Regions from separate parts of the Homo sapiens genome. Here region 1 is linked to region 2. A link means that fine-mapping ties the variant in region 2 to the expression of a gene that starts in the linked region. Tissue or cell type: whole blood. Region 2 holds a variant in brackets; the other region holds the start of a gene. All regions are shown on one strand. Distances are between the middles of the regions.

Region 1 (7,815 bases), 77 kb after region 2:
TACAGATGCACACCACCACACCTGGCTAATTTTTTGTATTTTAGTAGAGACGGGGTTTTACCATGTTCACCAAGCTGGTCTTGAACTCTTGACTTCGTGACCCGCCCGCCTCGGCCTCCCAAAGTGCTGGGATTATAAGCGTGAGCCACCGCACCCAGCCTCTTTAACAATATTTTTACACGAGGGGCTACCTCAGTTTACCTCCGCATAATCTTTAACCTAGTCTCTAAAACTGGAGATGGATGGGAAGAACTAAATTCGCAACTTACTTAAAATCTGAAAAGATAAAGATGTTAAATATTTTAAGGGTTTTATTCATTTGCTCATTCTAATTCAAGGAGTCGCCTTTGCAGACACCTCTCTCCCTCTCATAACTAAAAGACAGGAACCAATTGTATAACTCCTCCCTTCCCCCTTCAACCCAGCTAACATACAAAGGAAAGGACTTTCTCTATTGTGTCCCTGTAATGAATCTTTGTTAACTAAAACCCGATTCAGAAATAGTTCTCATTTAATTTTTTTAAATCCGCAAACTGAAAACTGTAAAAATAACAACAGATTTATTATTATTGCAAGAAAAGAAAAGCCAATTTTTGTAAATGTTCTGATTATGTTTTAAGGATTTGGTCTTTCTTTGGCACTGGGGAGGAAAAAGCCAAATCGCCATCCACCCCTCAATCTACTGTCCATTTAAAAACAAACAAACAAACAAAACTAATCAGAATGTAAATTTAAAAATAAATATAAAAATTTTTAAAGAACTGACTGACCTCTTTTTTCTGTTAAAATGTCTCTAAGCTGTCCCCAAAGCTGTCTGGTTTAATCTTTTTGTAAAATGCAAACACTTACTACAAAAGCCTAATCACTGTTAAGAGAACATTCATCTTGAAAACGTTTTATATAATGTATTCCCAGTGTACACCTCTTAATCCTGTAAAACAGTTATTAATGTAATCAGCTAGGGAAAAGGATAAGAGTAGGCACTTAAAGTTCAGTTTTAATATAGGTATTGCATGGTTTTTCTCATTCTGATTTGTACAAGACACCAGAAGTGAATACCATTTCATTTTCTTGCAGAGCCATCGTTCTGGTACAACTACCTTTTTATTCCTTTCACTTAAATTATTCAGATTTCACTTTTACTCCTAGTAGCAATCACACATTTTACAAAATATATCCCACAATAGGGATAAAAGGCCTTGAGTTCCTCCAAACAAGGTCCACTTAGCTCCACAGCTGGATCAGCAGGAACATTTCTTGTACATGCAGAAAGATAAACAAGAAACCAGAAATAGACATTACCTGGATTTTGGGGGGTGAGGGGAGGAAGTGTGGCAACTGGGAATTCCAGGGTCAGGGGTGGAGATTTTTCTCTGTATACCTTTCACATGCTTTGAACCCATAAAAATGTACTGTCTATTTAAACAACTAAATAGATTTGTTTAAAAATGAAAAAAAAAAACCTTTAAAATAAAAGAATTTCAGGGACACATGATCTGCTTAGTTTTAAAATAACCTGCTTTTATCAGTAGCATCTGCTTTTACTCTGCAATAGGTAAGATACTCCTTTGAATGCAGTCGTGAGCAAACTGCCAGCTAAGCCGTTTTTAATACAGTAATGTTCCTCCAGACTGCCGCTTTCCAAGGCAGCTCGAATCCTCCGCCCCCTCCTCCCTCTGTGCATTCTGAGATCGGCTCTGCTGATTCCCACATAAAGTGGGTCCTGGCCGCCATTTTAGAAAGTCATTCACACAAGCCAGACCGCAGCACCGTCCACTAAGAACCCTTCCAAAGCTGCCTGGGACGATTTCCTCTTTCTTCTCTCTGCCCCCTCATCTTGCAGAGGGGCCAAACTCCCAGCCATAAGCATGCAATGTCTCTGGAATCTGCATAATGAGAAATGACACGTCTAGGCACATAACACTGAGGAGCGAGCGAATGCTGCAATGCACGTGCTTGTACATCGGTGCATACGAATTTCCCAGGCAGAGACCTACAGAGAAAGTCCACAGGGGATTAAAGTGAGCACATCTAAGTGGTTTTTCCACTCCAATAATGTACACCTAAATGATTTTTCCATCAAAACACTGACGATACTCGAGGAGAAGCCAGGAGGTGGGGGGCGGGTAAGGGGTGGAGCAGCGCCAGGAAGAGAAAGTTCCCATCTGCTTCCCAATCCAGCCCGTGGTCTCCCCTTCATCCTAGGGCACAGAGGTGAATTTTTGCTCCCTGCCTCCCCCCGCCCCCGCCTGGTTTCTCAGGCACGACGTAGTAAACACCGGGAGAGTCCCTGGAAGCGCGCACCTCCCCCCGGCCTGCCGAGGACAGCTCAAGCAGGTTATGAATGGCCCCACGATTCCCGGCTCCTTTTCACACGCGGACACGCGCAGACGCGCGCTCCAGCGGCGAGGGTTTAATGCCCCAGTAACAGCAACCACCAACACAATCAATGATCCTCCATTTAAAAGACAGGAGCTCCGCCGCCGCTGCTTCCATTTCCTTATCCAAGCGGCTCAAAGCGAGCGACGCAATCTATTTTTCCCATGGTGACTCATTAATGAGGACGCTCCATAATTTCCTTCACTCACTACATAGTAAGGGAAATTAAAAGCCAAACTTAAAACCTTCCAGGGTCTTAAATATCGGAATAAACTGTCATTTTCGAGGACAACCACAGATTTGCTATGGTCCCTCTGAATCTGCACCAAGTCCAAGCCAATCGTCATTTTAATAAGTGTTTTATGCGGAGGCCTATCTGTTACGGTACACAGGCATTTCACAAAGAAAACGCACTACACGCTACTCAATAAGATGTATCAACGACAACATTTATTCTTATAATTCACAAAAATATTCAGGGGAGGTTTTTTTTTTAAGCTACATCTTCTCATCGTAAAAGGTTTGGAATGTTTTACCGTTTGATTCGGGAATTCAGGGGTGGGGGGCACCAGGGTCTTAGGGCGGCCTGGGAGTGCGACCCGAGGCTACGGGCGCCGGGGCTAGCAACCTCCTGTCAGACGCGGTCTCCTCCGCCGGGGACGAGGAAGCCCAAACGGGCGCACCAACTTATTTCACACCACTCTCCACCCAGCCCCGCAAAAACGAGAAACGTTTGCCATTCCCAGTGAGTTTCAAGGCTGCAAATCCTCCGGAGAGGTCCTAGATGGTCTCTCCGGGTCCGCGACGCGACCACAGTACCTACTGCGACTTCTGTTTTCGCACCGCCTTTCCCTTCGCACGGAACCCTCCCGAAGTCAGACATTGCCGAGCGCCCGCAGAGCAGCTTGGAGTGGCGGCGCCGGACCCGGCTGTCGGGCGGGCTCGGGTCCCGGCTGCTCCGGGCCGGGCACTGCGCGCAAGGACGCGACCCCGCCGCCCAGCGCATCTCCCACCGACTCCCGGGCTGACGCGAGGGCAGCCCCGGGGCGCCGGCTGCGTGGAGGCCGAGCCTCGGTCACCTCCCTCGTCACGGACGCGGCCGCCGGGGCCCCGCGGGCTCTTCGAAGGCGGCGCGGCTTGGCCGCCCGCACCGCCGACACCCGAGGCCCAACGCCGCGACGCGGGCCGAGCGGCTGACGAGGTCCCACAGCGCCCGTGGGTCCGGGCCGGAGTCCTCCTCACCAGCTCCGCGCTCCGGGAGGGGCCGGCAACGGGCCGGGGCGGGAAGCGGCGCCCGAGGAGCGAGCGCGGCCGCGGGCCTCGTGTCACTCACCGTTTGAAATGCTCGATGATCTTCTCTTCCCGCACGTTCTCGGGTAAGTTGCCCACCCAGAGATGCCTGGTTTCCCGGACCATGCTGGGCGGCGTGCCGGCGACCGCCGCTGCTGGCTCCCCCTCGCCGGCTTCGTACGAGACCGTCAGCGCCGGGAGGCGGGTGCCGGGGCGGCGGCGGCGGCGGCTGCGGCGGTGGCGTCGGCAGCGGCGGCGGCTCCTCCGGCTCCCCCCCGTGCAGAGACCATCCCTCTCCCCCAGGTTCTGACTCTCGGGCCTCGCAGCTCAGCTCTGCCGCCACCACACACCCGAAGCCGACCCTCGCGCTCCGGCAGCGCATGCGCCCGGGCAGGGGCGGGCGGGGGAGCGGGAGGAGGGGCGAGCGGGACACGGGCGGCAGCGACTACGACGGAGCTGGCGCTGTGGCAGCCGGACGCTTCCCACTGGCGCGCGCGGCCCGACTCCCGCCGCCGCACTGCCTCCCCCTCGCCGCGGGCGCGCGCGCGTCCTCCCGCCTGCCAAGGCGGAGAAGCTGAGTTCCTCCCAGCCGGCGCGCAGGCGCGCGGACCGGGCGACGAAGTGAGGGACTACAGGCGGGGAAGGAACGCTCGCGCGCTCGGCCCCGGTGCGCAGGCGCGCAGCTGCTAGTGGAGTCCCGCTGCTTGGCGGGCTCTCGGTCGGGTTCCCGCGCCGGGCAAGGGGCGGCTGAGGAAGCAGGAGCGGTCTTTAGCCCCTCCAGCGGCAACCCCAGGCCCCGGCCTGGTGGAAGATATGAAGAGAAATGCAATTGGTTTCCACAGGGCTACGGGTCAAAGCGGCTGCCAAGGCCTGTCCCCTAGAAGTCAGGACCCCTTCGTCCTCCGCTCACCTGGCGGCCAGCTCCTGGCGTTTCCGGACACTTAGATTCCTGCCTGCTTGGGAAAGCGATCAGAAAAAGGTTGCCCTTCTCACCGCTCTGCTGAACAGCGACGGCTTCAGAAACGCATCCCATCCAAGAGTCACTGGCTTGTAACATGAAGCAACTTTTTTTTTTTTAATACGGGGTCTCGCTCTGTTGCCCAGGCTGCTGGAGTGCAGTGGCACGGTCTCGGCTCACTGCAATCTCCGCCTCCCAGACTCAAGCGATTCTCCTGCCTCAGCCTCCCAAGTAGCTGGGATTACAAGCACCCGCAACCACACCTGGCTAATTTTTGTATTTTTATTAGAGACAGGGTTTCACCATGTAGGCCAGGCTGGTCTTGAACTCCTGACCTCAGGTGATCCGCCCGCCTCGGCCTCCTAAAGTACTGGGAGTACAGGCGGGAGTCACTGCACCTGGCCTAAGCAACTTTTTTATATAGAATCTTGCGAAACCGTTTGCAAGATACCCTTGCTGATCGCTGTGGTATAGAAGGAATAAAACGGAAATGAGACAGGAATCCAATATTGTTCCCCTCAGACCATAATTTAATATTTAAACAGAGAAAGGAATTAGACCTCTGGCCTTTCCAGGCCTAAGAGCTTTTGAAACCTACAGTTGAACTTTCTTTTTTTTTTTTTTTCCTTTGAGACGGAGTTTTGCTTTTGTTGCCCAGGCTGGAGTGCAATGGTGTGTTCTCGGCTTACTGCAACCTCTGTCTCCTGGGTTCAAGCGATTCTCCTGCTTCAGCCTCCTGAGTAGCTGGGATTACAGGCATGCGCCACCATGCCCGGCTAATTTTTGTATTTTTAGTAGAGACAGTTTCTCTGTGTTGGTCAAGCTGGCCTCGAACTCACAACCTCAGGTAATCCACCCGCCTCAAGCCTCCCAAAGTGCTGGGATTACAGGCTTGAGCCACCACGCCCAGCCTCTTTTTTTTTTTTTTTCCTGAGACCAAGTTTCACTCTTGTTAGCCAAGCTGGGGCACAATGGCGCTGTCTCAGCTCACTGCAACCTCCGCCTCCCAGGTTCAAGCGATTCTCCTGCGTCAGCCTTCCGAGTAGCTGGAATTACAGGCGCGCACCACCACACCAGGCTAGTTTTTTGTATTCTTAGTAAAGACGGGGTTTCACCATGTTGGCCAGGCTGGTCTTGAACTCCTGACCTCAGGTGATCTGCCCACCTTGGCCTCCCAAAGTGCTGGGATTACAGGCGTGAGCCACCATGCCCGGCCAGTTGAACTTTTATATAAAGGCCAATTTACAGAAATTCAAGGAAAACCCATAAAATTAAGGTAACTATATCGAGAGAAAAATAAAATTATTTATAATAAAAATACACAGAAATACCAGAGGTGTGCTGCTTCAGGTGCAAGCCAGATTTTTTTTTTTTTTTTTTTTTTTTTTTTGGAGACGCAGTCTCACTCTGTCACCAGGCTGGAGTGAAGTGGTACCATCTCTGCTTACTGCATCCTCCGTCTCCCGGGTTCAAGCAATTCTCCTGCCTCAGCCTCCCAAGTAGCTGGGACTACAGGCGCAAACCACCACGCCCAGGTAATTTTTTTACGTTTAGTAGAGGCGGGGTTTCACCATGCTATCCAGGATGGTTTCGATCTCTTGACCTGGTGATCTGCCCACCTCAGCCTTCCAAAGTGCTGGTATTACAGGCATGAACCACCAGCCCAGCCAATTTTAAATACTTGGCCTCATCGATTATCTCCTTAAATACAAACTAACTTACAAACGACACTATTTGAATTCGAAAATATTGTCACCAAAACCAATGGCACTAATATCTCAGGTCACCTATGCATAACTAAATTGTTTCTTTGTAGTCTCAGCTACTGGAGAGGCTAAGGCAGAAGCATCATCTGAGTCCAGGAGTTCCAAGCTGTAGTGCACTATGATTGTGCCTTGAAAAGCCCCAGCACTCCAGCCTCAGCAACATAGGAGAAACCCCTCTCTTAAAAAAAGAAAAAAAAAAGTAAAATTGGCTATTTACATCTGGCCATTTCTCTGTCACAATTATCACATAAGGAAAGTCAAGCTAACACCCTACTAACGAAACTCATGAACTATTCAGTACTGTGAACGTGGCTGCAGTTAGTCAACTGTTGAACTGATATGCATTTTTCTATGAAGCATGAATTTGAATACAAGCACCCAAGTTTGAAGCAAATTTTAAAATCTGATGTAAAATCTGATAGACTGAATTAGCTGAAACCTCTTGGGAAAGACCAGTGTCACCATGAAGAACAGTGTCACCTCAATTGTATTAAAAGGTGCAACTGACAAGAGGATTCAGAAAAGTGTCTCGCAATTAGAGAAATAAAAGGCATGTCTCGCCTTGAATGGAGGCTTCTGTTAAAATCATGATTTTAAAAAAAAAAAAAAAAGAGCCGGGTGCGGTGGCTCACGCCTATAATCCCAGCACTTTGGGAGGCTGAGATGGACGGATCACCTAAGGCCAGGGGATCAAGACCAGCCTGGCCAACGTGGTGAAACCTGGCCTCTACTAAAAATACAAAAATTAGCCTGGCGTGGTGGTGCTCACCTGTAATCCCAGCTACTCGAGAGGCTGAGGCAGGAGAATCACTTGAACCCGGGAGGCAGAGGTTACAGTGAGCCGAGATCGTGCCACTGCACTCCAGCCTGAGCGACAGAGTGAGACTCAGTCTCAAAAAAAAAAAAAAAAAAAAAAAACCATTTTCACCATTATAGCCAGGTCCTGTAGTCAAATCAGGATATAGTGATTGCATGTCAAGTATGAAGTTTCTTGCTTTTTTTTTTTTTTGGTTGACTGTTTCTATTGCAAAAGCTCTTAATAACAAAACTGATAAGTACATGCCCTTTGCTCAGCCCCAAATCAAGTTTTTGATTTTCTCAGTGCTTTTCATTTTTGCTGACAATGCATCAAAAAACACCAGAAAAGCTTTTCTCCATTTGTATTCCTGTTACAAAGCTTTACAGGGGCAGAACTTCTTTAAAGCATGTATCTTTGTTATGTTTTCAATAGAAAGGCAACCCACTCTGTTATTCTCTGATGTTTTTTTATTTAACAATAATTGATGCTCACTGAAAAAGATCAAAAAGTAGGTTGTGATTTATCTATGATAAACGGATGGTGAAGTGAATTTCCTCATTTGATTACTAAAGATAATTCAGAAAGCTGACATTAAAGCAGAGCCATTTGCAAAGTGGAATTAA
Region 2 (7,815 bases):
GGTCCGTTTCTGAAGACTGAGAACTAGGGGAGTGAACCTTTCCTTTGCGTTTCTGCTTGTCAGTTTTGTCCTTTTCCACTTTTTCCTTCCGTATTAAGCGTCTCTCTCTCTCCACTCTCTCCGGATCAAAAGTTCGTTCTTTATCTGTCTTTTCATTTTTTGTATAGCGCTCCAAACGAGACTTGTCCAGTTTCTCATATCTTGGAGGGGAGAGTGAGCTACAGCTTCCACTCCGGTCTGAGGATCGGCTGTAAAGCCTCCTCTCAGAATCACTCGGCAACCTCTCTGCCTGAGAGGGAGACGCTCCAGGACTCTGTGGACGTCGCAAGTGAACAGGACTTTGACTTCGTTCAATCGGCCTCCTCTCATGGTCTCTGTCCCGGTCAGACTCAAATCTTTCACGTTCTCTTTCTCGTTCCCTTTGCCTGTAACTATATTCCCTAATATCTTGTTCATAAGGATCATTCCTGTAATCCCTGTATTCCCGAGGATCATCGTAGTATCGTGATTCATAGTAGTCTCCTTGGTAAGTTTCCCATTCTGAATAAAACTCTCTCCCTCGAGCTGGATAGTCCCGCCTGGAATCCTCAGGATAAGTGCCTGGAGTTCGAACACTCTCATAATATGTACGATCTTGGTTATAGTCGTAGGATGCCCTTCGTTCCTCTCTGCCAAAAAATAACAAAGATATTAGTTCTTTTGTTTCCTCATCACTTATGCATAAAATCATACATATGAAATCAGAAATTCCTGCTTCTAAAAAATCTTTTGACATTATTTAATCATTTGTGAAATGATTAGTTTGTAGTAGCTATCCACTATAGCTTCAAGTAGCTACTAGGCACTTGAAATCTAGCTAAATTGAGATGTGTAAAATACACAGCCAATTTTGTAGACCTAGTTTATAGAAAAACAACAATTTAGACTGATTATATGTTGAAACAACGTTTTAGATATATTAAAGAAAATTTCACTTTGTCTTTTTAATGTGGCTACTAGAAAATTTAAAATTACATATACAGAATTTATATAACTTACATTATGCTTCTATTGGGCAGTGGTGATTCAACCCTTTTTTAATGTTTCTGGTAACTCCGGCGTTGTGACAAAGCAGACACTAGTTACTGGACAATATCCCCACACTCCTACCTAAGTCTCCCACAAAATTACTATTCTATAAAAAGATATTCTTACAACTTGGGAAATAAATCCACTGTTTAGAAAAACAGATAAAAATTTTAACTAAAATTTTGCCATCTATATGACCTGTATGATACTGGTAACACTTCTATCTAATTCACAATTTTTAAAAAATACTGGAACCTGGTTAAACTCTCTGAACTCAGTCTCCTCACTCATAAAATGGCAGCTTTTCCTCATAAAGCTGTTAAAAAGATTAAGATAATATCTGTAAAAACTTTCCTACATAATCCTAGGCAGGTACTTGGCCTCAGTAAATGTTGTCACTTTCCCCCAGGCTGCCAACTAACAAACCAGGGATGACTGCAAGCACCATGAGAGAACTCCTCCAGTTTTAAGGAACTCACCACAGGTTTTCTCCCACAGGGACCTGTCTGGTGCATTCAAAATAGGATTAAATTTACACACAAGAACATATATTATATGAAATTAAATACACCTGTAACAGAGACCAATTACTTCCTTCACTCATTCATTCTCCGCAATGTTTGTTCTCTCATGTAGATACACCTGGCTCATTCTAGGTAACACTGCCATTAGTAGCTCGCTGAAAGAACACTAGAACTTGGCCGGACACGGTGGCTCATGCCTGTAATCCCAGCACTTTGGGAGGCCAAGGCAGGCGGATCACGAGGTTAGGAGATCAAGACCATCCTGGCTAACATGGTGAAACCCCATCTCTACTAAAAATAGAAAAAATTAGGCGGGCATGGTGGCAGGCGCCTGTAGTCCCAGGTACTCGGGAGGCTGAGGAAGGAGAATGGCATGAACCTGGGAGGCGGAGCTTGCAGTGAGTCAAGATTGTGCCGCTGCACTCCAGCTTGGGCGACACAGCGAGACTCCATCTCAAAAAAAAAAAAAAAAGAACACTAGAACTTAAGCCCCATAAAGGCACAGGCTTTGTCTTCTTGGCCAAAATTTCTCTAGCTCTTACAACAGCACTTGGCTCATAGCACTCAACTATTTGTTGAAAGAATGAACTTTAGAAAAATATATCAAAGCTGCTACTAAATGATGTTCCAACTCCTTTGAACAGCAAACGAAGCATCTAGACTGAACATTCCAACACTGGAAGCATCGATAACACATTATTTTATAAATATACATATTTATAAATATGTATATTTTGTAAATATATTTATAAATGTGTGTGTGTGTGTGTGTGTGTGTGTGTATGTATATATCTGAGCTGGAGTGCAGTGGCACAATCTCGGCTCACTGCTCTCCACCTCTGGGGTTCAAGCGATTCTCCTACCTCACCACCACCACAAGTAGCTGGGAATACAGGCATGCGCCACCACGCTTGGCCAATTTTTTTGTATTTTTAGTAGAGACAGGTTTCACTGTGTTGGCCAGGCCGAACTCAAACTCCTGACCTCTGGTGATCTGCCCGCCTCAGTCTCTCAAAGTTCTGGGATTACAGGCATGAGCCACTGTGCCTGGCCTATTATATGTACTTATATTGAACTTCCTCAGTTCAAAGAAAATATTTTATTGTGTATCTATGATATTTGGTTTAATTGGATTCAAGATGATCCTTCCATAGCTCCATGGAAATCAGATTCCTTGTCTAAATAGTGACGAGGCAGCTCATAAATAACTGTTACTAGGCATGGAATTAGGCTAATTTAACTCATTACCACCATAAATACATACTTTGAGGATGTATTTTCCACATGAAGGTGAACACATTATATACCTTCTAATATTATAAAGTGAGTAAGACACCTAGAATGGTCATTAGTTTACTGCCCATATTAATGGTAGGCTTGAGTCATATTTAAAAACACAGTATCAAGGTATCTTTTTAATTAAGCAAACTAAAACTATATCTAAAAATACGAGCTGGGCATGGTAGCTTAGGCTTGTAATCCTAGCACTTTGGGAGGCCTGCTTGAGGCCAGGAGTTCAAGACTGGCAGGATCAACACAGCAAGACCCCATCTCTACAAAAAAAAAAAAAAATTTAATAAAAATTTATTAAGTAGTAATATTAAAAAAAGTTTTGGAAGGCAGAAATATATGTATAAGCATTCATGCTGGAGCACTGTTCAGCTTAACAAATACTTATTTTGCTGGGCCCCATGACAACAAAAGAAATAAGCAGTTCTGCCCTCAAAGAATTCAACAATTTAAGCAGGGACAACACAACTGGCACTTGGACCATGTACGGGGACTCTGAGGAACTGCAGAAAGTCAGGTTCGGAGAGAACTCTGTTCACAAAACCACAGAGTATCCAAAGTGCCATAAGTAGATGTCATCTGAATCACAATGTGACCCTGTAAATTCATCTCGAGAACCACTCCGGTAAAGGGTAAGCTCAATGCACTAGCAGGTAGGAACCCTAGGTTTATCCCCAGCCCAGCCCCTTAGTGGCCTGTGATCTTATTAGCAAAAGTTCCTTCCATAAAAAGGGTTACCTGACAGAGTATTAGAGGGATCAAATGAAATACTATTGGAAAATGGGAAAGCCCTGTGCAAATAGAGTTGTCATTTGCATTCCTGAGCTTATCATTAGCATTAAAGCATTTTTTTTCATTCATGCATCAACTATTCAGTGAGATAACTTCCATTCTATGGAAGAGGCAAAGATCCTCAAGGTCTACTGCAAGGAATGCATTCCATAAGCACTGCCAACTGAAACCACATGGGGCAAACCTGGGTCACAGTGAAGTCCC[A/G]CACCCTCCTGCGTCCTCATGAGGAGATAACTGCCATTTGAGAGGGATAAATAACCATGAGAAAAAACACAGAACAAACCCAAAGCCAGTTAGTTCATCACTAAAACAAACAATGACTTTTGGCCAAGCGTGGTGGCTCACATCTGTAATCCCAGCACTTTGGGAGGCCGAGGCAGGCGGATCACCTGAGGTCAGGAATTTGAGACCAGCCTGACCAACATGGAGAAACCCTGTCTCCACTAAAAATGCAAAATTAGCCAGGCCTGGTGGTGCGTGCCTGTAATTCCAGCTACTCTGGAGCCCGAGGCAGGAGAATCGCTTGAACCCAGGAGGCAGAGGTTGCGGTAAGCCAAGATTGCACCATTGCACTCCAGCCTGGGCAACGAAAGGGAAACTCTGTCTCAAAAAACAAAAAAAAAATAGATTTTAAGTAGTAATATACAAAAAGTAACACCCACATTACATTATTCAACCCTCACACAAAACTGCTGTTTTAAAATATTTAATGTACACAGAGGATTTTAATGGATTTTGTATGTTTTAGGTGCAAGTAGGCCTCCGGGACACTTTCCACTCACATATAGATAAGAATTCCTTGTAAGCATTTACTGTATTAACAATGACTTCAAACTGCTACTTGGGAAGCCAGGATAGAGAATTTTTTTCTCTCTTGACATGAGACACACACATTCTCCTGCATGTGGCCACATAATTTTACGCTCACTTTCACTCTCTTACACTCACACAACTGAGAAAACAGTCTATCGAGCCTGACTTTCTAGCTAAAGGAGTATTGATCTTTGAAGCTTTGTGATTTGGATTCTGATCTGGTGAGAAACCATCAAAACCTGACAAGTTTGAGCTTTTGAGAATTTGGCCGTAGGGAGCATTTTTCATTTAAAAACACCAGGTAGGCCGGGTGCGGTGGCTCACGCCTGTAATCCCAGCACTTTGAGAGGCCAAGGCGGGCGGATCACGAGGTCAGGAGTTCAAGACCAGCCTGACCAATATGGTGAAACCCCGTCTCTACTAAAAATACAAAAATTAGCCGGGCATGGTGGCATGCGCCTGTAGTCCCAGCTACTCGGGAGGCTGAGGCAGGAGAATCGCTTGAACCAGCAAGGCAGAGGTTGCAGTAAGCCAATATCGCATCACTGCACTCTAGCCTAGACCACAGAGCAAGACTTCATCTCAAAAAAAAAAAAAAGCACAAAGTATTCAACGACTGTTGTACAATATTCCACTAAGAAATTAATATATATTAATACTTGCTATCATTTAAACAAAAATGAATTGGCAAGAAGAGGCAGTAGAAAGGGAATGCATTCAACAGGGCTTGTGGCAGCACAACCCTGACTTGGCTCATCTTGCCATGGAGCCCTTTTCATACTTTGAACTCAAGTGTCTAAAGGCGTTTTTCACACAAACCTTTTGTCTAACACATATAGGGGTGGAGACCTAGTGGGAACATTCCAGGAAACTTAATCAGAGGTATGTCTGGAAAAACAGCTTGATAATATGGACCAAATTTCCATTTTCAAAAGTAATCAGCTATTGAAGAATCTGGTGGCATTATCTTAAGATGTTTTACTATATTTCGGTCTGTTCAGCAGAAAAAATATTAAATACTACATAACCATGACTGAAAGTATTAACAAGAGGAAATCAGGTTTGCCCTGCACATTGCCAAAGTTGCCAGTTTACATATGCTTTGGCTTATTGATTCACTTTGACTATTTAAGAGATTCAACTTTAAAATAAAGCTCTTGATATTCTTTTGGAAGTTTTTATTTATTTATTTATTTTTTAAGTTAAATGTATGAGCACATACAACCTGGTTGTTGTCATTACTAAATATGTAGCCATTTAAAAGTTTATAATGCACTCTAACATATATTAATACATTTACTTTAAGAAGTAACTGTAAGCAAGATGATTTGTATTTATGATTAATGGTACATAAAGCAGACCAGGTGTGGTGGCTCACACCTGTAATCCCAGCGCTTTGGGAGGCCAAAGCGGGCAGAATGCTTGAGCCCAGGAGTTCAAGACCAGCCTAGACAACATGGAGAAAACCCATCTTTACAAAAATTACTCCAGCGTGGTGGCAAGTGTCTGTAGTCCCAGCTAATCAAGAAGATGATGTGTGAGGATCACTTGAGCCTATAAGGCAGAGACTGCAGTGAGCCATGATCATGCCACTGCACTCCAGTCTGGGTGACAGAGTGAGACCCTGTCTCAAAAAAAAAAGTACATAAAGTTATCACCTGGCAAAACAGTAACTCTTTCAAGTTCTAGGAGCATTCAGTGAGAAATCCAGACAGGTTGCTCCAAACCCATAGGAATTACCTGGAAACTAGATTCAAAAAAATAAACCTGTGTTTCCATATGAAGTGATAAAAGAGAAGCATTCTCTATTCTAGAAGATGAAAGTAGGGGTAAAGAGTGAAAAATAAAATTTAATGCCATCTTAAGTTTCTGTATTAAAACTATTAAAACTCAAGCTACACTGGTAAGTTTAAAATACATACCTTCTTTCGGCTAACATTTCATAAAAGTCTCTGATGTCTTGACCAGATTTCTCCATGCAGTGATAAAAAGCCAGCTGACTTTCCCGATTTGCAAAATCCACCTTTAAAAAAAAAAAGAGGTGTTTGATGCAAGTTTCAAATTTTAATGATGGAAAAATGTTATCAGATTTGTAAATTCTTCACAACATAGCCCTTCTGAGAAAATTTCAGGAAACAGCAATGTATCTCAAGTAAAACAGTCCTCATCACTGAAACTATATTAACCTGAAATCTCTCAAATTCTGTATAAACCGTGATAAAAGAATGAAATTTATAAAGTTTCAAACCCAATTGTGAAGGAGTGAAAAAAGCAAAATGGAAAACTGAAATGGCAATTAAGTAATCAGATCAACTAAATCCAGCAATCTCTGTTGCCAAAACTACAGTTAGAATATAAAACAAAATATGGATGAACATTTTAAACTTTATTCACAGCTGGGCCTCAAAGTTACTAAAGCATATGATGCTCATCAGCTATCAAATAGCTTATCATCTTATTTTTAAAATACTTTTTTCAACCTAACAATCATAGTTATTTCATAGTTAAGTGCATAAATTCCTTCAAACTACCATGAATACAAGTTTTTAAAAACATACACTGGACATAAAGTTATGCTTTAAGTGGCTACCCACTCTTCAGGAGAGTAGGAAAGGAAAGAAAGACATATCATTCAGGATGCTGGACTGATACTATGAGGCCCTGGGTGTCAGATACCCATAACTGTGGTCAAGCCTGCGATGAGAGTGTCTGTGTGAGCATCAGCACCCGAACACTGAGAAGCACACTTCTTTGAATGAGAAGATTTTTAGGGAAGGATCTGTGGCTAATGGTTTAAAGATGCTGTGCCCACAAGTAGCTGAGCATAAAATTGTAATATTCCCCTTAAACACTAATGATACAGCATACGTGTCTTGTAAACCACTCCCCTGGCTGGCAGCCTACAAAATGCTAGTTATTAACGGGGTGATTTCTTTTTTTTGGAGATGGAGTCTTACTCTGTCACCCAGGCTGGAGTGCAACGGCATGATCTCAGCACACTGCAACCTCCGCCTCCTGGGTTCAAGCAATTCTCCTGCCTCAGCCTCCCAAGTAGCTGGGATTAACAGGCACGCGCCACCAAGCCCGGCTAATTTTTCTTGTATTTTTAGTAGAGACGTGGTTTCACCATGTTCATCAGGCTGGTCTCGAACTCCTGACCTCAGGTGATCCACCTGCCTTGGCCTCCCAAAGTGCTGGGATTACAGGCGTGAGCCACCACGCCCAGCCCAAGAGGGTGAGATTTGAATAGGACTTTGTTTTGCTTCTGTTTAAAGTCATTCTGCACACCTTAATTTTATTCCCACCGATTTTCCTCCCTTTGGTCTCT

What was found. PIP is the estimated chance that this variant, and not a neighbour inherited with it, causes the effect.
Region 1: SPEN-AS1 starts here. The variant in region 2 is fine-mapped to the expression of SPEN-AS1 in whole blood (TOPMed, PIP above 0.99).

Annotation. Positions count from the first base shown.
Region 1 is chr1:15,844,048-15,851,862 of GRCh38, reverse strand. SPEN-AS1 (SPEN antisense RNA 1) reads left to right here and starts at 3,716. Exons shown (of 2, transcript NR_024279.1): 1 at 3,716-3,755. SPEN (spen family transcriptional repressor) reads right to left here and starts at 4,156. Exons shown (of 15, transcript NM_015001.3): 1 at 3,713-4,156. The coding sequence starts at 3,795. RefSeq lists enhancers at 1,984-2,578, 4,002-4,513, 4,514-5,026, 6,906-7,005 and silencers at 3,250-3,669, 3,850-4,419, 7,236-7,305.
Region 2 is chr1:15,920,944-15,928,758 of GRCh38, reverse strand. SPEN (spen family transcriptional repressor) reads right to left here. Exons shown (of 15, transcript NM_015001.3): 9 at 7,776-7,815; 10 at 6,410-6,510; 11 at 1-668. Among named protein-coding and RNA genes, the nearest start is that of ZBTB17, 51 kb to the left of the region's middle. The variant A/G (reference allele first, on the strand shown) is at 3,879.